7 linked regions of the Homo sapiens genome follow. The protein of the gene in region 3 purifies or fractionates together with the protein of the main gene of each other region. This does not show direct contact. Each region holds a gene or a part of one and is shown on either strand. Other genes may lie near its edges. The genes, in order: CNOT9, VBP1, UHMK1, TNKS1BP1, CNOT1, CNOT2 and BTG3.

What was found.
Region 1: the proteins of UHMK1 (region 3) and CNOT9 purify together in Homo sapiens (affinity purification with mass spectrometry; one large-scale study listed by BioGRID and IntAct). This does not show direct contact.
Region 2: the proteins of UHMK1 (region 3) and VBP1 purify together in Homo sapiens (affinity purification with mass spectrometry; one large-scale study listed by BioGRID and IntAct). This does not show direct contact.
Region 4: the proteins of UHMK1 (region 3) and TNKS1BP1 purify together in Homo sapiens (affinity purification with mass spectrometry; one large-scale study listed by BioGRID and IntAct). This does not show direct contact.
Region 5: the proteins of UHMK1 (region 3) and CNOT1 purify together in Homo sapiens (affinity purification with mass spectrometry; one large-scale study listed by BioGRID and IntAct). This does not show direct contact.
Region 6: the proteins of UHMK1 (region 3) and CNOT2 purify together in Homo sapiens (affinity purification with mass spectrometry; one large-scale study listed by BioGRID and IntAct). This does not show direct contact.
Region 7: the proteins of UHMK1 (region 3) and BTG3 purify together in Homo sapiens (affinity purification with mass spectrometry; one large-scale study listed by BioGRID and IntAct). This does not show direct contact.

The regions. Positions count from the first base shown.
Region 1 is NC_000002.12:218,571,839-218,575,338, forward strand, and holds part of CNOT9 (CCR4-NOT transcription complex subunit 9), read left to right. Parts: intron 1-3,500. UniProt on the Homo sapiens protein: Component of the CCR4-NOT complex which is one of the major cellular mRNA deadenylases and is linked to various cellular processes including bulk mRNA degradation, miRNA-mediated repression, translational repression during translational initiation and general transcription regulation.
Region 2 is NC_000023.11:155,229,960-155,233,459, reverse strand, and holds part of VBP1 (prefoldin subunit 3), read right to left. Parts: intron 1-3,500. UniProt on the Homo sapiens protein: Binds specifically to cytosolic chaperonin (c-CPN) and transfers target proteins to it. Binds to nascent polypeptide chain and promotes folding in an environment in which there are many competing pathways for nonnative proteins.
Region 3 is NC_000001.11:162,518,318-162,521,817, forward strand, and holds part of UHMK1 (serine/threonine-protein kinase Kist), read left to right. Parts: intron 1-3,500. UniProt on the Homo sapiens protein: Upon serum stimulation, phosphorylates CDKN1B/p27Kip1, thus controlling CDKN1B subcellular location and cell cycle progression in G1 phase. May be involved in trafficking and/or processing of RNA.
Region 4 is NC_000011.10:57,314,953-57,318,452, reverse strand, and holds part of TNKS1BP1 (182 kDa tankyrase-1-binding protein), read left to right. Parts: intron 1-565; coding exon 566-635; intron 636-3,500.
Region 5 is NC_000016.10:58,521,827-58,525,326, forward strand, and holds part of CNOT1 (CCR4-NOT transcription complex subunit 1), read right to left. Parts: coding exon 3,353-3,500; intron 2,017-3,352; exon of another isoform or gene 1,677-2,016; coding exon 1,544-1,676; exon of another isoform or gene 1-1,543.
Region 6 is NC_000012.12:70,337,433-70,340,932, reverse strand, and holds part of CNOT2 (CCR4-NOT transcription complex subunit 2), read right to left. Parts: coding exon 3,420-3,500; intron 3,178-3,419; coding exon of another isoform or gene 3,148-3,177; exon of another isoform or gene 2,514-3,147; intron 2,491-2,513; coding exon 2,370-2,490; intron 2,268-2,369; coding exon 2,111-2,267; intron 1-2,110. UniProt on the Homo sapiens protein: Component of the CCR4-NOT complex which is one of the major cellular mRNA deadenylases and is linked to various cellular processes including bulk mRNA degradation, miRNA-mediated repression, translational repression during translational initiation and general transcription regulation.
Region 7 is NC_000021.9:17,595,902-17,599,401, reverse strand, and holds part of BTG3 (protein BTG3), read left to right. Parts: intron 1-577; coding exon 578-785; intron 786-3,500. UniProt on the Homo sapiens protein: Overexpression impairs serum-induced cell cycle progression from the G0/G1 to S phase.

The sequences.
Region 1 (3,500 bases), on a different chromosome or scaffold from region 3:
CCCCCAAAGTGCTGGGATTACAGGCATGAGCCACTGCGCCCGACCTTGCTGTTGTCATTCTTGATGGAATACATCCTAACATCTTCATATATTCATTACCGCTACCATTGAGCATAATTTCTTTTTTCTCTCCTCTAATAAATAAGGACAGAAGTACCACACAGGATTATTCTAAAGATTAAGTAAGAATAACAAAATGCGGCCGGGTACTGTGGCTCATGCCTGTAATCCCAGCACTTTGGGAGGCCAAGGCGGATAGATCACCTGAGGTCAAGAGTTCCAGACCAGCCTGGCCAACGTGGTGAAACCTCATCTCTACTAAAAATACAAAAATTAGCTGGGCATGGTGGCAGGCGCCTGTAATCCCAGCTACTCAGGAGGCTGAGGCGGGAGAATCACTTGAACCCAGGATGTGGAGGTTGCAGTGAGCCAAAATCGTGCCATTGCACTTCAGCCTGGGAGACAAGAGCAAGACTCCATCTTTAAAAAAAAATGAAAGAAAGAATAACAAAATGCTCAGTGGTTGGCTAGATTCACTCACTGATATGTGACTTGTTCCCAGACTTCAGCTTTGGGAATTTAATTCCCAAATTAAAGGCTCACACACCTATAATCCCAGCACTTTGGGAGGCCAAGGCAGGAGGATCACTTGAGGCCGGGAGTTCAAGACCAGCCTTGGCAACACAGTAGGAACCTATCTCTACAAAAAATGTTTAAAAATTTTCCAGGCTGCAGTGAGCCATGATCATGCTACCGCACTTCAGCTTAGGCGACATAGTGAGACCCTGTCTCAAAGGAAAAAGAAAACTACAAATCTTTGCATGCCATAGGTATTCTGTAATGGATGTTATGCTTGTGAAACAACCGGAGGTAAGCCTTTAGGGGATGTGTTTTTGTTTTGTTTTGTTTTTAATTTCCCACTGATTTCCACTGACAATTCTAGCATCCCTAAACACTTGTCTTTCTCTCACTTTCCGCCTAACCAGCAGCATCATTAGTTATTTTACATCTTTTTATTGAAGCTGTCATGGACTGCCAGATGCCTTCCTTTTTGGCAAGTAGAAAGAACACTGCACTCTAAAGGATTTAATTCACTTTCTCCTCCCGAGTCTCCTGATGAAGCTTTAGGCAAATTGCCTAACTTATCTTTCCTTATTCACTTTCATTTTTTAAAAGTTATTTTGAAAAAATACATTCTGGGCCGGGCATGGTGGCTCATGCCTGTAATCCCAGCACTTTGGGAGGCTGAGGCAGGTGGATCATAAGGTCAGGAGTTCGAGACCAGCCTGGCCAACGTAGTGAAACCCCGTCTTTGCTAAAAATAGAAAAATTAGCCTGGCGTCATGGCATGCGCTTGTAATCCCAGCTACTTGGGAGGCTGAGGCAGGACAATCGCTTGAACCTGGGAGGCGCAGGTTATAGTGAGCTGAGATTGTGCCATTGCACTCGAGCCTGGGCAACAAGAGCGAAACTCCATCTTAAAAAAAAAAAAAAAAAAAAGATACATTCTGGCTCTTATAAAATTATGAAGGTAAGCTAATTTAGTACTTCCAGCACTATTAGAAAGTTCATTTTCTTGGAATACCATGCTGACACCCAAATCCACGTGTTGATCTCCAGACTTGGGAAAATAATCTCTATTTCAGTCTGATTCCATTCTTTATGTATTGGCAGGAAAATAAACAGCTATTTTGGCCCTTAAACATAAAGTTACATTGATAATTTGGCTATTTTCTGTTTAAGAAACCATCAGCATCAATTTTTTAGTTTACTCAGAGAAGGAAATCATTTTCTTTACCATTTATAGATAAATGTCATGTTTTATTTAAAATAATTTATAAACATCTTTATACTTTTCACATTATGTGTTAAAATCTTTCAGAAATAGAAGACCAACTTAAACTGTCAGTACCCTGTGTGACACTTGGAGTTAACCATTGGTAACTTACTTTGGTAAATACCTTATCTGTATGTTAAGCTTTCTTGGGGAAAAAAGGTGTCATTTGAAATACATTTTCCATATACAAATCATTAAACAGAAAAGGAGGGAGAGTTACCACCTAAATTTTGATAATATGAAAGTTTTTTAACACACTTATTAAAAGAACAGGACTGTTGACTTTATTTTTTTATTTTATTTTATGTTTTTGAGACAGGATCTCGCTTTGTTACCCAGGCTGGAGTGCAGTGGTGTGATCTTGGCTCACCGCAACCTCGACCTTCTGGGTTCAGTCGATTCTCCCACCTCAGCCTCTTGAGTAGCTGGGATTACAGGCAAACGACACCACACCAGGCTAATTTTTGTATTTTTAGTAGGGGCAGGGTTTCACTGTGTTGAAACTCCTGACCTCAAGTGATCCACCAGCCTCAGCCTCCCAAAGTGCTGGGATTACAGGTGTGAACCTGTCTCTGTGCCTGGCCAGGACTGTTGACTTTAGCAGGTTACAATTAATAATCTACGGTAATGTACTATAGAGCTTTTTTCTATTCTTGGAAGTGTTAAGGATAACTCATAATCTAAATCAGATTTCTCATGATGATTCTATGTGTCCAGGTATGTAATTGAGCTCACTGTGTATCCAAATCCAGCTGTTAATGAGTTCTGTGCTAAGGGAATATTAAATTTAAGAAAGTTTTTTTGGGTTCTTAAGAGTAATTTCTTCAACTTGGAGGAGTATTTGTGCTTTCTATCCTTGAGACCAGATAGAACTCATCGATTCTAGAGAGAAGTAGAGTTTCAGTCTCATTCTGCTGTACACTGGCTGTGTGACCTTGAGCACATTAAACCTCTATTAACCTGTTTCCTCTTAGAATTTTGAGAATAAAATGATGTAATCCACAGTGCCTGAAACATGGTATGCTCAATAAATATTACTGCATATTAATAATTTCTGGAAAAGGCAGACCTAATCTATAGTAGCAGAAAACACCCATGATTGCCTCAGGCTGAGTATGGGGTTTACTGAAAAGGGCATTAAAGAACTTTTTGGGGTGAATGGATCTATATCTTCATTATGGTAGCAGTTACTTAGGTGTATAAATTTCTCAAAAATCTATTGAAGCGTACACTTAAAATGAGTTCACTTTTATTGTATGCAAATTATACGTCAAAGTTTTTTTTTTAAAAAAAGAGCCTCTTAGATTAGACTCTCACAACTAAGAACTAAATAATTTCTAAGATTTTAGAGTTGCCTGAGACTGACAATTATTTAATATAGTTCCTTCACTTTAACAATGAGAAAATTGAGGTTTGGAAAGTTAAATGACTTATCCTAGGTCACACAATTCTAGAAAGAGCAAAACTGGATTTTGAAGTCACTTCAGGCTCCCACGCCAGTGTGTGTTCCAATTATATACACATGTAGTTCCTTGCAAATTGAGGTCTTTCCTGTTCTTCAATTTGATAAACAGATTCTTAATCCTGGGTACATGGATACATTGCAGGAACTCTGTGAACTCCTTAAAATTATGTGTAGGTTTTCGTGTTTTTGCAGTTGTGT
Region 2 (3,500 bases), on a different chromosome or scaffold from region 3:
CTTTTTCTGGCTGGCAGCAGAATGAGAAGTTTGAAAGATCTAAAGTGTAAGAAAGACTAGTCATATCACTGCTTTGAAAACAGAAAGGACCATGAGCCAAGGATTGCAGGTGGCCTCTAGAAGCTGAGACTGACTCCTGGACGACAGGCAGCAAGGAAACAGGGACCTCAACCACAGAGAACCGGATTTTGCCAATAACGTGAATAAGGCTGAAATCTAATTCTCCCCCAGAGATGCTAGTAAGGAATACAGCCCTGTTGACAATTTAATTCTGGCTTTGTGGGACCCTGCACAGAGGACCCAGCCAAGCCCATCTGGATTTCTGACCTATACAGCTAGGAGATAATGGATATTGTTTTAAGCCTCTGAGTTTGTGGTAATTTGCTATGCAGTTTCTTTCACTCAACCTTGTTTGTGAAAATCACCCTTGCAGTGCTGGCGTGTAGCAGCAGTTCATTCCTCCTCTGTACTGTATAGTATTCCACAGTCTGAACACATCATGATTTACTCATCCATTCGACTATGATGAACATTTGGGTTGTTTCCAGGTTTTGGTTACTACAGAGTTGATATGAACATTCTTATACCTTTCTTTTAGTTAATATTTATACATTTCTTATATACAGCAAGAGGCAGAAAGAGATAGAGACAGGCATGGAACTGCTATGGCATAGGCAATGCATATGTTCTGCTTTAACAGATACTGCCAGTTTCCCCAGTGGCTGTGTCCATTTACACCTTCACCAACAGTAAATCAGTGTTCTCACTATTCCATGTCCTACCATCACTTAGTATCACCCTACCATTCCGGTGGGTACACAGTGAGATCACATTGTGCTTTTAATTTGCATTTCCCTGTTTACTAATGAAGTGGGACAACTTTTCATATGTTTACTGGCCATTGGGAGGCCCTCTTTTTGGAAGTCACTCACCCATTATCCTGAGGAGTTGCTTATCTTTCCATGTTATCCTTAACAAAAAAGTTTTCTAAAAAATTTAAGTATATAAATATTAGGAAAAAAATGTTTGCAGATTTGGTGAAAGGAGTACACTGTTAAGATAAAATTATAAATATCTGATAAAGTCGATTACATTAAAATTTAAAACTTCTAAGAGCTACCACAAAAGACAAGTGACAGATGAGAAAAAGTATCTGCAATATTAAGAGAAGACTGTGCATCCGAAATACATAATATATAAAGAAGACCTAAATGTCTATCAAAAAAAAAAAGAAAAAGAATCCAACAGAAAAATGGAGCAACAACATAGTCAGGAAGGGAAACAGAAGAGGAAATACAAATGAGCATTTTGTCATACAAAAACCTATAAGATGATACTATTTTCACCTATAAAACTAGCAAAAATCTAAAAATGTGGGTGAGACTGTTAATAAAAGGGTATTTTTATATACGGTTGGAGAAAATGAAAATTGGTAGTCTTTTCTGGAGAGCAATTTGATAGTATCCATCAACATGTTAAATGTGCATACTCTTAGACACAACAATTCCATTTCAAAGCAGCATACAAAAATATGCCTTTGTATACAAGTCTATATGTGCAAAAATATTTACTACAGCACCGCTCACTGTACAAGAAATTTTAAAACAATCCAAACACCCCTTGACTTGGGAATATTATCACATAGCCCTACCACAGAATAGTAAGCCAATAAAACCAAGGAGGCAAACTCTGTGTCTACTCACAAATAAAGACATCTGTGCTGAACAATATACAATATATATCCCATTTTTGTAAAAACAATTAACAAAATTCCAAATATTTAGGTACATACAGATGTACAGACATGATTAAAAGTGGGTGCATCTGGGGATGGAGCAGTAGCCTGCTGCTTTCTATTTGCTCTTTGAACCATTAGCATGTATGAACTCTGATGAAAAACTAACAAAAATGTCATTCACCCAAGAAAAATTTTTACTGAGCACTTATTATGTGTCAGGGAACTGGTAAATACACCAATCAATAACATATCAGGGAGTGCTAAGTACTTTGAAGGAAAACAATACAAGATAAACAGTACAAGTGAAACCAAGAAATGCTGACAGACAAGTCATAGCAGGTCCCTGGGGGAGCTAACAATCAGAACTGAGAACTCAAAGGATTGAGTGTGAAGAACACAGAAGTAGAAATGTGGGGCCACACTGGCAGGTTCCAGGAACAGTTAGGGGGCCACCATGGCTACAGCAGAGTGAGCAAAAGAATGAGCATAAATGAGTGCTGAGAGGGAGTAGGGCTGTCCTGTGGAAAGGACACCTCTGTATTCCACCCTTGGTGACAGGGAAACCACTGGGGTCTTGAGCAGAAAAGCGGAATCATCTGACATGTTTTAAAAGCACTACTCTGGCAGCTTAAGCAGAAGAAAGAGCTAGAATAAAGGTTCTGAGGCAGGGCCATTCCCAGCATGCTCTAAGTCTGGCAAGAAGTCCAAGTGTGGCCAAGCGAGGAAGTAAGAGAAGAACAGAGAGACTGGACACGGTGGCTCATACCTGTAATCCCAGCACTTTGGGAGGCCAAGGTGGGCAGATCACCCGAGGCCAGGAGTTCGAGATCAACCTGGCCAAAATGGCAAAACCCCGTCTCTACCAAAAAATTTAGCTGGGCATGGTAGCACGTGCCTGTGATCCCAGCTATTCAGGAAGCTGAGGCACAAGAATCGCTTGAGCCCGGGAGACAGAGGTTGCAGTGAGCTGAGATCACAACACTGTACTCCAGCCTGGGCAACAGAGTGAGACTCTGTCTCAGAAAAAAAAAAAAAGAGAGAAGTAACAGAGAGTACCAGGATGTATAGGAACTTGTCAGCCACTCAAAGAACTTGGACTTTTCCTCGGAATGTGATAAGAAACCATTCAAAGATTTTGGGCAGAATAATGGAATGACCTGATTGAGATTTCAAAGGATTAATCTGACCACTGTGCTGGAAAGACTTTAGGAATTCCAGCAAGGGCAGAAGCAAGACAGTGAATTAGGGTATTATTATGGGTTAAACAGTGTCCCCAAAAAAGATACATTTAAGTTTTAACCCCTTATACTAGCGAATGTGACCTTACGTGGAAGTAAGGTATTATGGATTGAATTCTGTCTCCCCAACAAAAAATAAGTTGGACTACTAACCCCCAGTAGCTCAGAATGTGACTTTATTTGGAGATAAGGTCTTTCAAAAGGAGAAATTTGGACACATGCATGCACACATGTGAAGATGAAGGCGGAGATCACAGTGATGCTTCTACACATCAACATGCCAAAGACTGTCCGCGAACACCAAAGCTAAGAGAGGAGGCTAGAACAGATTTTCCCTCACAGCTCTCAGAAGGAATCGACCCTGATTCTGGGGCTCATCACGGACTTCTGGCCTCCAGAACCATGAGACAGTCCATTTCAGTTGTTAAAGCCACCCAGTTTGTGGTAATTTTATTATGGCATCCCTAAAAACTAATAGACAGTATTCCCACAGTCCTGGCAAGAGACAAAGGTGGCCTGGACCA
Region 3 (3,500 bases):
TTTTTATATTCTGACTTGTACTTTTTACTTCTTCTAAAAGTTCTATAATATGCTTGCATTTTTTTAGCACTTAAAATTTTTTTTTTTTTTAAATATTGGCTGGGTGTGGTGGTTACGCCTGTAATCCCAGCACTTTGGGAGGCTGAGGTGGGTGGATTACTTGAGGTTAGGAGTTCAGAGATGGTGAAGCCCTGTCTCTACTGAAAATACAAAAGTTAGCCAGGCGTGGTGGCACATGCCTGTAATCCCAGCTCCTTGGGAGGCTGAGGCAGGAGAAACACTTGAACTCAGGAGGCAGAGGTTGCAGTGAGCCAAGATCCTGCCACTGCACTCCAGCCTGGGCCAGGAGAAATGAGTGAGACTTCATCTCAAAAAAAAAAACTACTTTTGGCTGGGCGCAGTGGCTCACGCCTATAATCCCAGCACTTTGGGAGGCCGAGGCAGGCGGATCACGAGATCAGGAGTTTGAGACCAGCCTGGCCAACATGGTGAACCCTTTTCTCTACTAAAAATACAAAAAATTAGCTGGGCATGGTGGCGCATGCCTCTAATCCCAGCTACTTGGAGGGGCTGAGGCAGGAGAATCGCTTGAACCTGGGAGGTGGAGGTTGTAGTGAGTGGAGGTCATGCCACTGCACTCCAGCCTGGGCAACAGTGTGAGACTCCATCTCAAAAAAAAAAAAAACTACTTTTGAGCCACTGTAAACAGTAACACCAGGCCAGGTGAGGTGGCTCATGCATGTAATCCTAGCACTTTGGGAGGCCGAGGCGTGTGGATCACCTGAGGTCAGGAGTTTGAGACCAGCCCGGCCAACGTGGTGAAACCCCCTCTCTACTAAAAATACCAAAAATTAGCCAGATGTGGTGGCAGGTGCCTATAGTCCCAGCTCTTCAGGGGGCTGAGCAGGAAATTTGCTTGAACTTGGGAGGCTGAGCTGCAGCAAGCTGAGATTGCTTTATGGCACTCCAGCCTGGGTGACAGAGCGAGACTCCATCTTAAAAAAAAAAAAAACAGTAACACCAACTGCTAAATCATGCTTTATTTCAGGTTCAGCTGGAGAAATGTTTTAGTCTAATTTTGTTCTAATTAGGTAGAGTTAGAAAGCCAATTAGGTTAGGTTCTAATTGTAATAGAAACTATCAGTGATAGTTTAAAGAAGGAAAGTGTGCTGGACTGAGAATTCTTGAACCTGAGTTCTAGCCTCAATATGATTAGCTTTGTGATGATCCTCATTTTCTTCATCTTTAAAATGTGTGGGCTAAAACTGTTATCACCGCATTTTCTTTAGAAACTCTAATTCCAAATTAAATTATATGACAAAGAATGTAAGAAGATATTTATTTGTAGTATTTTTATTTTTTGAGAGATAGAATTTTGGTTTGCTTTACCTTAGGGTTTCTCATTCTTGACACTATTGACATTGAGCCTGATAATTCTTTTGTTGGAGTAGCTGTCCTCTACACTATAGAACGTTTAACAGCTTTCCTGATTTCTACCCACTTTGAACAAAAAAAATGTCTCTAGACACTGCCAGATGTCTGTCCTCTAGGGGGTGAAGTCATCTCTGGTGGTGGATTATTTTATTGTATCTTTTTTTTGAGACAGGGTCTCACTCTGTTTCCCAGGCTAGAGTGCAGTGGTGCAGTCTCAGCTCTCTGCAACCTCTACCTTCCAGGCTCAAGTGATCCTTCTGCCTCAGCCTCCCGAGTAGCTGGAACTACAAGCACATGTGCCACCACACCTGGCTAATTTTTTGTAGAAACGAGGTTTTGCTATGTTGTCCAGGGCGGTCTTGAACACCTGAATTCAAGAGATCCAACCCGATTCAGTCTCCCTAAGTGCTGGGATTAAAGGCGTGAGCCACTGTGCCCAGCTATAATTTTATCTTAATAGCTTAGTATTATGAACATTCCTGACAACTGAAAAAATATGAAAACAAAAATATGAGCACAGTTTTATTCTAGTCCTAATGAAAAGTTATTGCCAAACTAGTGATAATAGTTTTACATTTAGTATCACGTACTGAATACTAATATGTATAATTGTATCCTTGCTGTTTAGTCATTTAACTGATATTTATTGAGCATTTATTATGTTCTAGGTACCCATTGTAAAAGTGGTCAAATCAGATTTTTAAAAGTGTGGTGATAAGTGCTAGGGAGAAAAACAGATTAAGGAAGAAACTTAAGGAGTGCTGGGGTAGGTAGGGTGGGTTGCACTTTTAAATGGGTTAGTAGGGAAGGACATCTGAGAAGGTCATATGAATCAAGATTTGAGGGAAGCGAGGAAGAGAATGTTAGGCAAAAGGAACAGCAAGATCCAAGGCCCTGAGTATTCCTGGCAGATTTGAGGAGGCCAATGTGGCTGTAGCAGAGTGAGAAAGAAGAATAGTAGGAGATTAGATCAGAGAGATTAGGGAGTGGTAGGGGGCTTATTAAGTAGAGTGAGCTGGGTAGAGTATTGAGATTACATTGGCTTTTATTCTGAACTAGGGCGAGGTATTGGAAGATTTCGAATGAAGGACTGACATGATCTGACTCAATATTAGCCCCAGTGGTCAAAATGAAGTGGAAGATACAGAATAGAGAGACAGGAGAAGTCTTTTCCAGAGAGAAGTATCCAGGTTTAAGATGATATGAAAAAAGTATCAGTGAGAGGAAAGTTGCTATTTTGAGAAGTTTTCACTGACATTTAAAGGAGAGTGAAAGCAGCTTTTGATAAACTCTTGGAATCACAGATTTAATCTATCTAGGCTTTTGAAAATGTCCATTACCTAGTTGTCGAAGCCATTCTTCATTTGAATTTTTAATTCAAGCAAACATGATTTTATAAGGAATGTTACAAAAAACACTGAAAAATAATGAATGCATCTGATAATGCAATTATAAAAATAATCAGAATTAAAATGATACAGCCCTATTAATTTCATAATTTATAAAAATAAGATGCCTTTCTTAGTGTGGGATGGTGTAGTATAGAAAAGTATAGCCTATCTGAAGCAAGGAGTATGATAGAAAACATGATATTCCTTCTATAAATGCATGTCTACTCATTTATCGAACTTTGCTCTATAGGTTTGGGCATAATTAAGAATCAGGTAAAAAAAAAATCAGGAATAGATTCATTATTCCTTTTTGGGGTGGGGTCAGGGAGGGGACAGGGTCTTGCTCTGTCACCCAGGCTGGAGCACATACAGTGTCGTGATCTTGGCTCATTGCAGCCTCGACTTCCTGAGCTCAAGTGATCCTCCCAACTCTGCCTCCCAAGTAGCTGGGATTACAGGCATGTGCTATCACGCCCAGTTAGATTTTGTTTGTTTGTTTTTGAGATGGAGTCTTGCTCTGTTGTTGCCCGGGCTGGAGTACAGTGGCGCAATCTCAGCTCCCTGCAACCTTCGCCTCCCGGGTTCAAGTGATTCTCCTGCCTCAGCCTCCTGGGTAGCTGGGATTACAGGTGTGTGCCACCTTGCCCAGCTAATTTTTGTATTTTTAGTAGAGAC
Region 4 (3,500 bases), on a different chromosome or scaffold from region 3:
GCCCCAGAGCTAGTCCTTTGCCTGTCCCAGACCAGGGTGCTGTGAGGTCACACTCTTGCCCAGGCTGGGTTCCACCCGCCATCTTCCTTCTCTCCCTCACTCCAAGTAGGGCTTAAGAACAACTTCAACCCTGGAAAATCACTCTTTCCTCTTCCCCTCCCCCACTGCAATTCTTCAAGAAGTATTGGCAGGGCAGCAGGACCAGCTGCACTCTTCCTGGCTAGAGGAGAACTTTAACTCCTTATGGGTTAAAGGAAAGAGGAGTTATCTTTTTAGGAGCTGTTGAGAGGTCTGGGCATCCAGGATGCTTTTCCTAAAGTAGCTGGGGAATTTAACCCTTCATGCTCAGGTAGGGAATAAGCACTGTTTTCTGGGGCACTTGCCGAATGGAAAATGGACAGATTCTGTGTCCCTAATAGTTGCAGGCAGGGCTCAAGAGTAAATGGCTAGGAGGGTTTAACCTTTGGGTGCTGTTAAAGTTGCACTGGGAGACTCTCCCACATTTTCCATTCTGTGACAGACTCTAACATTCCGTGCTTCCATTTCCTGTCCTCGTCCCTCACAGGAGCCTTCCTTCCGACCTGGCCTTCAACGGGGACCTGGCTAAGGCAGCCAGCTCGGAGCTACCTGCTGATGTGAGTTATCCTCCAGTTATGAATCAGAATCACGTATTTTAGAGCTGGAAGGGTCATATGAGATCATCTTTTCTACTCCTTGTAGTTCAGATGGGGAAACTGAGGCCCATGGGGAGAGTGACTCACTGGAGGGCTGGCCCTGGGATTTTTCGACTCCTGGGCCAGTGCTCTTGATCACCAAAGTGGCTAGGTGTGGTTAAGGCCATGAGGCCATTCATCATAAACAGTAATGATAGTATCCACAACAACTGCCATTGATTAAGTCCCTACTATGTGCTGGGCCTGTCCTGGGAACGTTAACCAACTCAATCCTTGTGATAACTCTGGCTAGTAGACCTGGTTAGTCCCATGTGAGAGATGAGAGCACCTGTACTCACAAAGGGTAAGTAACTTAGGCTGAGGCAGCAGCTACTGTGTCTGCCTCCCATGCTTTCCCTGGCTGGGCTGCCTTTTCTGAGTTCAGAAGAGGGGTGAGTCCTTTTGCTGAGATTTTCCCATCATACTCCCGTTCTTGAAGATGGTCAGCCTGCTTTCTTGAGTAAACAAGGTACAGGATGGCCCTTTTTGCTCATACAGCCCTTGCTAGCTGGAGATCTGACTTGATTCATTTGTCCATCCAGCAAGCAGTGACTGAGCGCCTGTTAGGAGCTGGATGTTGGAGATAGCTGTGAAGGTAGAGTAGAGAGTGCAGGGACGAGTGTGGTCAGGGAAGGTGTCACTGTGAAGGGCAGAGGCTGAGCTGTGTGCATGTCTGGAGAGCAGCATTCTTGGTAGAGGGCACAGCAAGTACAAAGGCATTGGTGCTTTCCTGGCAAGGAGGCCAGGATGTCTGCCTGGCAGTGAGAGAGGAGTTAGGTGGTAGTGAGGACCAACGGGTTGGGGGGTTGGATTGTGTCAAGTCTCGAAGGCCTCTAGAAAGACTTTGGCTTCAGTGAGAGCAACAGGCCATTTGAAGGGTTTGCAGGAGAGGCATGGGATGCTGCTGTCTTAGTTGTGAAGAGTCACCTGGCCCACTGGATTAAGAATCAGTTGCAGGGAGGTAAGATCAGCAGCATGGACCAGTCAGGGGGCTGTTGGAATAGTCCAAGTGAGAGATGATGACGGCTTGGACCCTGGAGGTAGCCTACGGTGGAGATGGGGAGAAGTGGTTGGTTCTGGATAGAATTTGAAGGCATGGTGGAAAGGACTTTCAGATAGATAGAGAGCACAGAATCAAGGGTGACCCCACGGCTTTTGGCCTGAGCAACCGGAAGGATGAGTTTATGGTTGCCGAGACGGGGACTTCTAAGGGTGAAGCAGGATCGGGGGAGATGGGAGGAGTTTGCTTTGTGGATTTGTTGAATTTGAGATGGTTTTCAGACATCCATGTGGAAACGTCAAGCGGATGGTTGGGTAGTCGAGTCTGGCCTTCAAGGGAAGTGAGCAAATTTGAAAGGAACACTTGGGAATTGTCAGAGTAGGAATGCTTGTGAAGACTGGCTGAGATTACTGAGAGTGGGGATGGTGCAGGAGGGGAGGGCCCAGAGGCACAGCCAAGGAGACTGGGAGGACAGTGAGAGAGTCCACCAAGTGGAGACAGCCTCCAGGACTGGGGGAGGGCGCCATCAGCTGTCAGATGCCACTGACAGGTCAAGTAAGATGAGCACAGAGAATTGGATTCAGCTCCAGGGAGGTCATCCGTGACCTTGACGAGAGTAGTTAGGTGGCAAGGTAAAGGAGAAAGCCTGTTTGGAGTGGTTTCAAGAGAGAAGGGGACAAGAAGAACTGTGGATATTAATAGTGAATATAGACAGGGCTTTCAAGAAAATGGATGGTAGCTAGTGAGTGATGTGGGGTCAAGAGTGGTTTTTTGGTTTGCTTTTTTGGCTTTTCAAGACAGAAGAAATTAGAGCAGTTTGTGTGCTGATGGAAATGATCCAGTAGAGAGGGAAAAAAAAATCGATGCAGGAGAGAGAGGAGGGATTGACCTCAGCCCCAAGCGAGGACAGTGCCTGATAGCAGAAGGGGAGGCAGAGTGCTTGGGCTCCCATGCAGGAAGTAGGTGGTGTGTGTGTGTGTGGCGGTGGGGGGGTTGTCGGGGGTTCTCTGCTGGTGGCCTCTGTGTTCTCAGGGAACAGGAAGCAAGGCCATCAGCTGAGAGAGGATTGGGGGAGGTGTGGAGGTCTGACGGGAGAAGATGCTAAAACATTGCCTGGGAGAGTCATGGAGTGAATGGCAGGGGGAGTGCCGTGGGATTCTGGGCAGCTCTAGGGCCGGCTTGAGGTCAGCAGTGAATCTGGAGTGAGACCAGCTGTCACGATTGTGTGTTTTTATCCAGCCACATGCAGCTACTCAGGTGCTGGGCTAGGATTGGCCCAGCTGTATTGGAGAGCTGTATTTAAACAGGTTAAACAGTATGATGAAGCAGATGAGGGAGTTGAGTGTTGAGTAAAAAGTGACGTTAATGGTGATAAGAAGAGAGGTGAGGGTATGAGGGGAGTGGGGGACAATGAGAAAGAATTAGGGTTAAGGGGCTGTGCTATGAGAGGGGCTGAAAATAAGGGCGTTGGGGAAATAGAGTGAGCCGGTCAGATAGGCGGTGGGGGTGGGCAAGTGGGATACTTGGGATTGAGATGATGCAGAGGTTGCAGCCACTGGTAAGGATGAGGTCTAGGGTGTGACCTTGAGAGGATGGGTCGCACAGTCACTGAGGAAGAGGAGGTCAACGAACCAGAGGCTGGAAGGGTCGCATCTGGCTATGGAGATGACTGTAAGCTATCACAACAATGATGGAGAGGGTTGCAGTGATGCAGCGGTTATGGTTTTCAAGGAATGATGGGTGCGTAAGGGTCAATAACAAGAAAGAATTGTGGGTGCTGTAGTTTA
Region 5 (3,500 bases), on a different chromosome or scaffold from region 3:
CCTGTAATCCCAGCAGTCGGACGCTGAGGCAGGAGAATCGCTTGAACCCAGTAGGTGGAGGTTGTGGTGAGCCGAGATGGTGCCACTGCACTCCAGCCTGGGAGACAGAGTGAGACCCTGTCTCAAATAAACAGATAAATTAAATAAATAAATAAGCTCACTCTCAATAAAAAGGAAACAGAAAATAAGAATTAAGTATTCTAACACTGCAGGCTGGGCACAGTGACTCACGCCTGTAATCCCAGCACTCTGGGAGGCCAAGACGGGTGGATCACGAGGTCGGGAGTTCAAGACCAGCCTGGCCAAGATGGTGAAACCCCGTCTCTACTAAAAATACAAAAAATTAGCCGGACGTGGTGGCAGGTGCCTGTAATCCCAGCTACTCAGGAGGCGACAAAGCGAGACTGTCTCAAAAAAAAAAAAAAAAAAAAAAAAAAAAAAGCTAACATTGCTAGTTCACATGTAAATTGGTAAAATTTTTCCGAATGCCAGTAAGCATTGGCTTAACTTTATATCCTTTCACGTACCAACTGTACATGAAGCATAACAAAGATTACAAGTCCAAGGAGACTTACTGCAGCTTTATATAAACAAAATGGATCATCATCATCTAAGCATCCAATAAGATATTAAATTTTAGTACACAAATCAAAGGAATACCATATTTAGCACCATAGGTGACTAATTAGGCAAATGAGCAAGTTTTAAGAGTCTGGCCCAATTTTTAAAGTGTGTGTGTGTGTGTATCACAATCTCTCTAATGCTATATGTAGTCTAGGCAATCTGGCAACAGATTCCTAACTATTGTTAGGAAAATGCAAGTATGATCCTGTTATTGCTACTGCTTTCAACCCAGAGGTAATGAGGAAAAGTCCAAGTTCCTTAACATAGACTTCATAGGCCTGCATGATTTAGGACTGGTTATCACCACCACCTCAGAGAAACTCCTGACCTTTAATCAAAATGTGCCTTGTGGTAAACTACTTTTCATTTAAGCCATGATTGCGATTTATAATTCCCTATCTTGTGATAAATGTCCATCAGAATGAGTATTAAGAGGGCAGGAACCATCCATTTTGCTCACAATTGTATCCCACATTTAACACATTATTGGACATGTAAAAGATTTTCACTGAAGGCCGGGTGCAGTGGCTCACGCCTGTAATCCCAGCACTTTGGGAGGCTGAGGCGGGTGGATCACTTGAGGTCAGGAGTTCAAGATCAGCCTGGCCAACATGGTGAAACCCCGTCTCTACTAAAATACAAAAATTAGCTGGGCGTGGTGGCAGGCGCCTGTAATCCCAGCTACTTGAGAGGCTAAGGCACGAGAATCGCTTGAACCTGGGAGGCGGAGGTTGCAGTGAGCCAAGATGGCGCCACTGTACTGCAGACTGAGTGACAGAGCAACACTCCGTCTCAAAAAAACAAAAAAAAAACCAACCAAACGGATTTTCACTGAACACTGAAAGCATAAAGAGGAAAAAAAAAAGATGAAAGGGAGGAGATCCTTTTGAAGCATTTAAAAAATAAGCTGCTCGCTTACCTTGTGATCTGTTCTTGGATGGCTTCCGTATTGGCCTCTGCAAAAAGGTACAGCATGGTGCAACTGAAGTAGTGAGTGTGGCTATTTGGGTACCGGAGCTGATTTGCAATTGCATTCAAAAAGAGATAGCGACCTAGAAATTAAGAAACCTTGACTTAGGACTTAGTCTGAAAGGCCAACATGGGAAGACAGTTCTAACTGGCTAGGGTTTGGGTTTCTGACAGAGGCTTTCAAATTAATCTTTGGTTTAAAGCAGTGGTTCTTGGGACCCCAAAGAGTTCTCATTTCTGTGCGTTTTATTTCAGAATTTTCCACATTAGAAATTAGATTTTAAAAATATTCATTTTTAAAAACAGACCCACTATGTGCTAATGTAAGAAACATGAACTATTTTCTGGTGACACTCATCACTAAGTCTTTCTACATTTTGCAGATCTCTAAGTCTTGCTTAATAAAAGACAGCTGGATTCTCATTTCTGCTTCTGTGTTCAACTTGTTACAGTATATTTCATGTAACCTCTGAGAAATTCAACTGTACACTCATGACAGAATAGACCCAAAAATGTAAATGTTGTTTTATGATGAAAACAGTTTTGGGCCGGGCACGGTGGCTCACGCCTGTAATCCCAGCACTTTGGGAGGCTGAGGCAAGTGGATCACTTGAGGTCAGGGGTTCAAGACCAGCGTGGCCAACATGGTGAAACCCCATCTCTACTAAAAATACATAAAAATTAGCTGGGCATGGTGGCGTGTGCCTGTAATCCCAGCTCCTCGGGAGGCTGAGGCAGGAGAATCGCTTGAACCCCTGAGGCGGAAGTTATGGTGAGCCGATATTGCGCCACTGCCTTCTAGCCTGGGTGTGAGAGCAAGACTCTATCGCAAAAAAAAAAAAAAAAAAAAGTTTTGACCTCACAGCCCTCCTAAAAAGGTCTTGACACCCTAAGGGTACCCAGCCCACATTTTGATTAGTCTAAACTACACTGGAATAAGTATTATCTTAATTGGGTTTGGTTGTTTGCCTCTGCTTGACATTATTCGTGTTTGTGAGTCTGTCACAGTGACACGTTTCTCTAAAGGCTGCCGTCCTTTTATTGCCGAGCTCTTGGACGTGATGGTATTCAATTTTGTTATATCTTGAATTTAAGCTGTCTTAAATCCATCCCACATATAGGCATGCAGCATATATGCAACATCAATTCATCTCTCAAGAATCAATAGCAAAGTTAAAGAGTAGTGTCCCCCTAAAATATATGTATGCAAAACTGGACAGGACTGTACAACTAGTTAGCACCTAACTGGGGTCTCTATTTTATAAGATAAATATAGAGGACCAAATGAAATGTAGCTCAAGCAGAAAAGCTGCAACCTGCAACAGGAGTTATACTGTGAGCTTTTTGCAGAACAGGAGAGTCCTATTCATTAATCTTTATACATGAACATTTAACAAGATGCCTGCCAAACACGCACCAATAAAAATGCTTATATAAGGCAGCCTAACAAAACAATGTAACAAGAGGCTATGTTTAAAGGGACTTTAAGTTTATTTTCACACTAAAAAACTTCAGTCACATACACCAAAACTGATACTGCACGATTCTGGATAATTCTTTCCTTTATGCTTTTTTGTATTTCCTGCACTGAGCAGATAATGTCCAATTAAAGATAAAATAATCAGCTAGACCTGTGAATAAATATACTGACAGAACATTCCTTCACTATTGTGGCTTGAAGCATTTTTACATTTTTGTGATCAGATTGTAGCAAAAAGCACAGAGAACTCTACTCTGAAAACTGGCAGGCTTCACTCACCCTCAGTGTCCAAGTCCACAGCCAAATTCTGGAAGATATCCATGTGTGCTGAGTGAGTGATGGTGCTCATTGAAGGTGTGCTGCCCTTGTTGTGGATGTGCGCAATGGCCTGAGTCCCGACATAGAGCACCAGTGCATTGATGAGCTG
Region 6 (3,500 bases), on a different chromosome or scaffold from region 3:
CAAGAGCAATACTCTGTCTCAAAAAAAAAAAAAAAAAAAAAAAGATTTGGGGTTTTTAATCATAATGAAACCACAAACATTTACTGGGTGTTGAGCAGAGGAGTAATGTATTAAAAAAGGATTGTCTTGGCTGTTATATGAAGAGATTGTACGGGAAGGGGTATAAGGACAATCAGGGACCCCCAGTGACTGGCTAATGGAGTATTCAGGCAAGAGAGAATGATTCAAACAAGGGTGGTAGCAGTTAAAAGTAGTGAGCTTTGGTTAGATTCTGTATATATTTTGGGAAAAGCCTGATTATGGGGTATAAAAGAAAGAGGAGTTAAGAATAATGCCAAGTTTCTGGAAGTACAGAGTTACCACTAACTGAGATTGGAAAGGCTGTAGACAGAATAAGTTGGGGGGTGATCATTCAAGAAATATTTAATTGGCAATTGAATGTAGAAATCTCAAACTCAGAAGTGTGGAATGGAAACATATGTTTGGGATTCCTCAATATATATGGTATTTAAAACAATAAGACTAGAAAAAGATCATCAAGGATGTAAATGCAGAGAAGAGGAATGACACTGAGGTCAAGAAGAAAAGGAGGAGGTACCAGCAAAGGAAACTGAAAAAGACCAACCAGTGAAGATGAGGTAAAAATGGTGCTCTCAAATTCAAGTACAAGAATGTGTATCAAGGAGCAAGAGTTCCTCCAAGTGACCACTGAATTTAATAACATGAAGGTCATTTGGTGACCTTGATAAAAGCAGCTTTAGTGAAGTGGCAGGGACAAAATCCTGACTGAAATGGGCTTACCAGAGAATGGGAGAAGACCAAGTCGGAGAAATGGAGATGACTCTTTGAAAAGTTTCGCTTCAAAGGGAAATAAAGAAATGGGAAAGTAACTTACGGAGGAGGTTGGATCAAAGGAAGATTTTCTTCTAAGATGAGAGAAGTAACAATGTATTTCTATGTTGATGAAAATGACCCAACAAAGTGTGAAAATGTGTTGTAAGTAGAACGCATGGGTCAATTATGGTAATAGGGTGGAAAACAAGAATAACATAGGTGTAGGTGGCTGTAGGTAGTCAGATTTGTTGGCTAGACTGTGCTAAATGTGCTCTTCTAATTGCTTCCATCTTTCTTAGTACAGTAAAAGTGAAAAGCAAGATCATCATTTGATAGTAAGAATAAGGAGAAAAGGTATTAGGGGCATGCAGAAGTGTACGATAGTTGCATAAGAGAGCAAAAGAGTAAATGGACTAAGCATGCAAGGTATAATTATCACTGGTAGAATTAAGAGCCTACTTTTGAGGCTCCTGGGCATGAAAATAAAGGAAGACCAGGCAGTGATATCATGTGTTTTTCTCTAGCAGAGCTCAGTAGCACAGGTCAGGAATGAAATAGGCAGAAACAATCAGTACTGTAGCTTTGGCCATGCAAGTATAACAACATGAGAAAATGGCAAGTAGTCATGGGATATGTAAATGAACAATTATGACTGACCACAGAATTTCATGGGTAAGAAGGGAGTTGATCACAGGGGAAAAGAGACGGGGATCTGGAAGAACAGTTAAAATACCGAAGAATCAATAGATTGAAGGTCCCAATGGAGTGAAATGATTACAGGAATCACAGTACTAGAAGAAGAGAAATAGAAAATAGAAAGTGGAAGTCGGAAAGCATGCGAGCTCAGATTTTAAAATTGAGAGACTGCAGTTACGAACAATGACTAGGTCAAAGGGATAACTAAAGGAGTGGCTGAAGTATACTACAGGACAAAAATTCCTGGAGGAAAGAAATTCAAGGAGCTGAGATTTCAGGATTCTGGAAGGTGTGTGTGTGTGTGTGTGTGTATATATATATATATACACACACACATATATACATGCACATGCACACACACACACACACACACACACACACACACACATAAAATGCCAAATTATAAAAGGAATACTGCAGAGTGACAGTGATCTAAGAGCTAACATGAATGGGAATGACCCAGAGAATCAGCAGGTTAACAATGAGTAGCAGTAGGTGAGATAATTTGATGACATGATATTAAAAACTGGAAGTCTGAAGAGGTATTATATACAGACATGGAAAAACAGAAAAAACTTACTCAGGAGAGTTCAGATTGAGGCCTAATGTTGTTAAGTCACTTCCTAATGCAAGATGTACCATTCCTGGGTCTGTCTCTGCTGCCCTGATAAATGTTAACAGGCCAATCATTCCAAATTGGTCCGTCACCATCCCTTGAGGAATGTTAGTAACCCGACCTGGGTAGGAAAAACACAGTTGCTTTTATTTTCAAGAAAAAGTTAAAAAATAGAAAAAAAAGCATTCTATAATATCTTTGACATAGATTTCTAGAGTCCCACCATCAGGTAACACCTGGATCCCTTTTTTCTGCTGGTTATTATTTTGTGTTGTTGAACTTTTATCTCCAGGGAATTTGGGTCCATCTGTACTTGAAGTTGTCTTGCCAGATGTATTCAAATTCTAGCATGAAAAAAATTAAATGTGACATTAAAATTTGTTAAGTATACAAATTCAAGTTCACATATTAATACCTTGCTATTTATTCTTTATTACATTTAAATTGGTAGTTAAATTATTACCTGTTTTTCAAGTTCTATAGAAAATTGTTTCCATCATTGTTCCATGGTATACAAATAAATCCTATATCATCCACATTTGAGTATTTAAAGAAAAAGAAATCAAGGGAAAATATCTTATTTATCTCAGATCTTCAGTCACAGAAAAAAAAAAATCTATCTCTTTCTCAGGTCTTTATGCTTTGGGATACACTTGAAGTTACACTCCTCAATGCTTTCATGTAAAAGAGAAACTAAATATAGTATATTACCTAAAATCACCAAAGCTACCTTGAAGATAAGTTAGACATACAAGCTTTAAAACTTTGTACTTATTTTAATTCTTACCGATCTTCTTTATCAATTATTTTAATAATATATAAACTCCCATCACACACAGAGAAAAGCTATTTTCAGTGAAATGTGGAAGAAATAAACATATTTGTTAAGTCAGAAAGAAGAAGCTGAGTTGGTTGAATCAACACAGGTATAAAAATGTGTATAAATTCTTCAAGGAGAAAACTTACTCAAGAAAAACACAGCTCCTTAGAAGGCTATATTATCAAACTTCATGGGATCCAGCTGACAGGGACTACAATAAAAGTCTAAATTAACTCTGAGAAGTTCAACAGAAATTTGCAAACCTATATGAAATAGGAAAAAAATAGGCTATCTTCTAAGTTATAAAGCTTTTCCACATTCTTCAGAAGTTAGGTTATTACAGATATCAAGATAAAACAGTTTTGTAATAGTATTTAGTAAGTAATTGTTAATATAAGAGAAATCTGAAGGGAAAAACTACATCACTCACATACACACTTCTCAGTTACTTACAGATTTACTGTCATCATTACTTGATGTTGGATCTTTATAGCTGGAGCCTGGTAATGCTGGAAAATCTTCATTGTGTATTGA
Region 7 (3,500 bases), on a different chromosome or scaffold from region 3:
TTGGGACCAGCCTCAGCAACATGGTGAAACCCTGTCTCTAAAAATGTATATAAATTAGCTGAGCATGGTGGTACACTCCTGTAGTCCCAGCCTCTTGGGAGGTTTGAAGTTGGAGGATCGATCACCTGAGCCCAGGAGGTAGAGTCTGCAGTGAGTTGTGATTGTGCCACTGCACTCCAGCCTGGGCAACAGAGTGAAACCCATCTCAAAAAAATAAAAATACATCAGAATGTTTTATTGTACAACCAATTTCATTGGTACATACAAAAATGTAATCAAAACAATGGACTTTTTTTGATGTTTTAAACAATTTTTTTTTTAGGAATTAGTAGAAAGAAAATAAGGGAAAGAAAATGGGGTTATGTTTATGAATACTTAAATAGACCAGAAGTAGAAAACTGTGGTTTGCTTGCTGGCATTGAGCTGTATTAGGATATTAAATGTGTAGGGTCAAGTTCTGTGATGATTCAATCTTTGCCTTGTATTGATGGCATGTCCAGATCTCTTTGTTTTTATGGACATTTTTTGCTTTGCTGATGTGACTTCAAGATTTGTAAGTTTTTAATTTTATTCTTAGGTATGGAGAGAAAAACAATGCATTCATTGTTGCCAGCTTTGAAAATAAAGATGAGAACAAGGATGAGATCTCCAGGAAAGTTACCAGGGCCCTTGATAAGGTTACCTCTGATTATCATTCAGGATCCTCTTCTTCAGATGAAGAAACAAGTAAGGAAATGGAAGTGAAACCCAGTTCGGTGACTGCAGCCGCAAGTCCTGTGTACCAGGTAACCATGAAAACAGCTCAGTTTTAAAGGGATGTGCAGGGATTGCCAGGACCTTTCAGGTAGTCCTACTTGGCATTGCCCAAGGTTTCTGACTTGAGATTCTGGATAATAGTTCTTGCCTTTCCCCATGCTAAGGGAAAGCTGTTTCTCTGGCACGTAAATAGGCATCCTGAGTCATTTTATCAAAGGTCAGCTTCACTATACAATAACTAGGATAAATATATTTCAGAAAAATTGGCAAAAAGTAGAAAATTCATGATGGTAAAACATTCCTGATATTTTAAAATCTCATTCAAAAGTTACCACTTATTTTTTGTAGTATGTAACACTTTGTTTTGTACCTTTGGGTTTAACTTTCTATTCTCTCCCGTTCCATGATTAAAGAGAAACCTCTCTAAATTTATTATATTATAATTAATATTTTACTCAAGCTGAAACATTGTCTCCCTTTTTGCTTTACTAGTTGAAAAGTCATATAGCTAGTGTGCCTGCACTTACAGATCCATTCACTGATTTACTATTTATATCTACATACCAAAGAACATTTAATCGACTTTAAAAAATTGTTGACCAAACAGCATTCTTCAACAGGAAAGATATTTTAAAGTCATAACAATTTAAAGAGATTTTTTGAGTTGAGCCTTATTCTGTAAATGTACTTATTACTAATTTTTAAAGGTTATCTATTTTTACTTACTTGCTTTGATTAAATGTGAAACATACCAGGTTTGTGGTAAGGTTGAGCTGAAAATGAAAATTTAGACCTAATGAGTAAGAAGCAGAATATTGGAGCTTTTAGTATGATAAACTAAACTTTTAAATTCAGCATACATTTACATAATGAACATTATTTCAGTGTAACTTAATTTTTGGTTTTCTCATTTTTTTCTCAGTTGAATTATTCTTCCTAGACTTTAGGGGAAGATTATTTCTGAAGATTATCATAATTTAGGATTCTATGTATATGTGTATGTATATGTATATGTATATAACATGTACCTGGCTTTATGAAACTTCAAACAGTACAAGACAGTATAATAGTGAGAAGTCCTCTTTCTCCCCAACCACCAGTCCCTATGCATTTCCACAGAGACATTCATTACCAGGTTTTTTTTTCTTTTTTTTAGTATCCTTCCAGAGACATTCCCTATATAAATAAGTAAACATAGTATTTGTACTTCAGGATCATTTTTAAAAACCTTGCCATAAATATTTGAGGCATTTTTTTTCTCTGTGTGATGGATTATATATTGCAAATTAGGTATATTGAATTTTCTGGAATTCATCCAAATGTGTGGCAATTTTACCTCAGAATTTTATTTGTTGTTAAGCAAGAATGTAAGTCTCAAATTAAATTGATTGCTGCTAATTTTTTACAAGCAAATTAACCTTTAATTTTTAGGATTTCTTTTAAAATTAAATTGCATTTATTTTCCCTCATGTTGAAAGACTATTAGGATAACAGAAAGGTATGGAAATTGAGGTGTCTCTTACGTGCTTTTTAAGGAAAACATTTCTCCTTGGCCTAATACTCATTAGCAAAACATTTTATAATAGAGAAACACTACTTGTGTGAAAGCTAGTGCAAATGGCCCACTTTGATTTTCTTCTTTCTAGTATCTTGAATCTGGCATTGCCACAAGCTTTAAAAAAGTTTTATCAAATAAGGACAACAAAATTTCTAGCTTGGAATTTTTGTTCTCTACTGTTTTCTAAAAGGTATCCCAAGAGAGGGGATAAAGAATTATTCATATCTTAAAAAACGAAGAAATGAAGATTGTGTCAGTTCTCCTGAAATAGATCTGTAGATCCAATTCAGTATCAATGAACATCTTAAAAGGTTTTTTTCTGGAAAGTGACAAATTGATTCAAAATTTTAAAAAAGGAGGATCAGTTGGAGGGCTCACACTAATTCAAAGCTATTATATATTCATCAAGACAGTGTGGTAATGGTTTAAAAACATACAAATATATTGATGGCACAGGATAGAGAGTCCAGAAGTAGACCCACATACATACAGTTAGTCTTTTTTCTCCCTTTTAACAAAAGTGCCAAAGCAATTCAATGGGGAAAGTCTTCAAGAACTTGTGCTGAAACAACTGGATGATCTGTGTAGGAAAAAAAACGAACCTAACTTAGCTGACACCATACACAAAAATATTGATTTGAGATGGATTGTGTACCTAGACATAAAAGATAAATCTCTGACGCTTTTAGAAGAAAACATAGGGAAATATAATCTTTATTTTGTGACAGGCAAATATTTCCTCTAGAGGGTCACAAAAAGTAACTAATAAGGGAAAAAAATTGACAAACTGGACTTCATCAAAATTAATCATCTTTTTGTTCATCAAAGAAACCATTAAGAAAATGGGCAAACCATAGACTAGGACAAAATATTCTCATTACATATATCTGTAAAGGACTTATTTCCAGAATATACTTTTTTTAAAATCGCTCACAAATCACTAGTAAAAGGTAAATGATTCAATGAAAAATAATGGGCATATCCTGCTGTAATCTCAAAAAAAGGGCAGGAGGAGCAAAAGATGTGAATAAACACTTTACAAAAGGAGTTATGTGAATGGCCTCATTTATGATCAGAGGAATGCAGATTAAATCCATATGAAACACTAGTTCTTCCAGAACTGCACAATTTAAAAGCCTGACAGCATGAAATGTTAGCAAGGATGTGAAGCAGCTAGATTCATAAA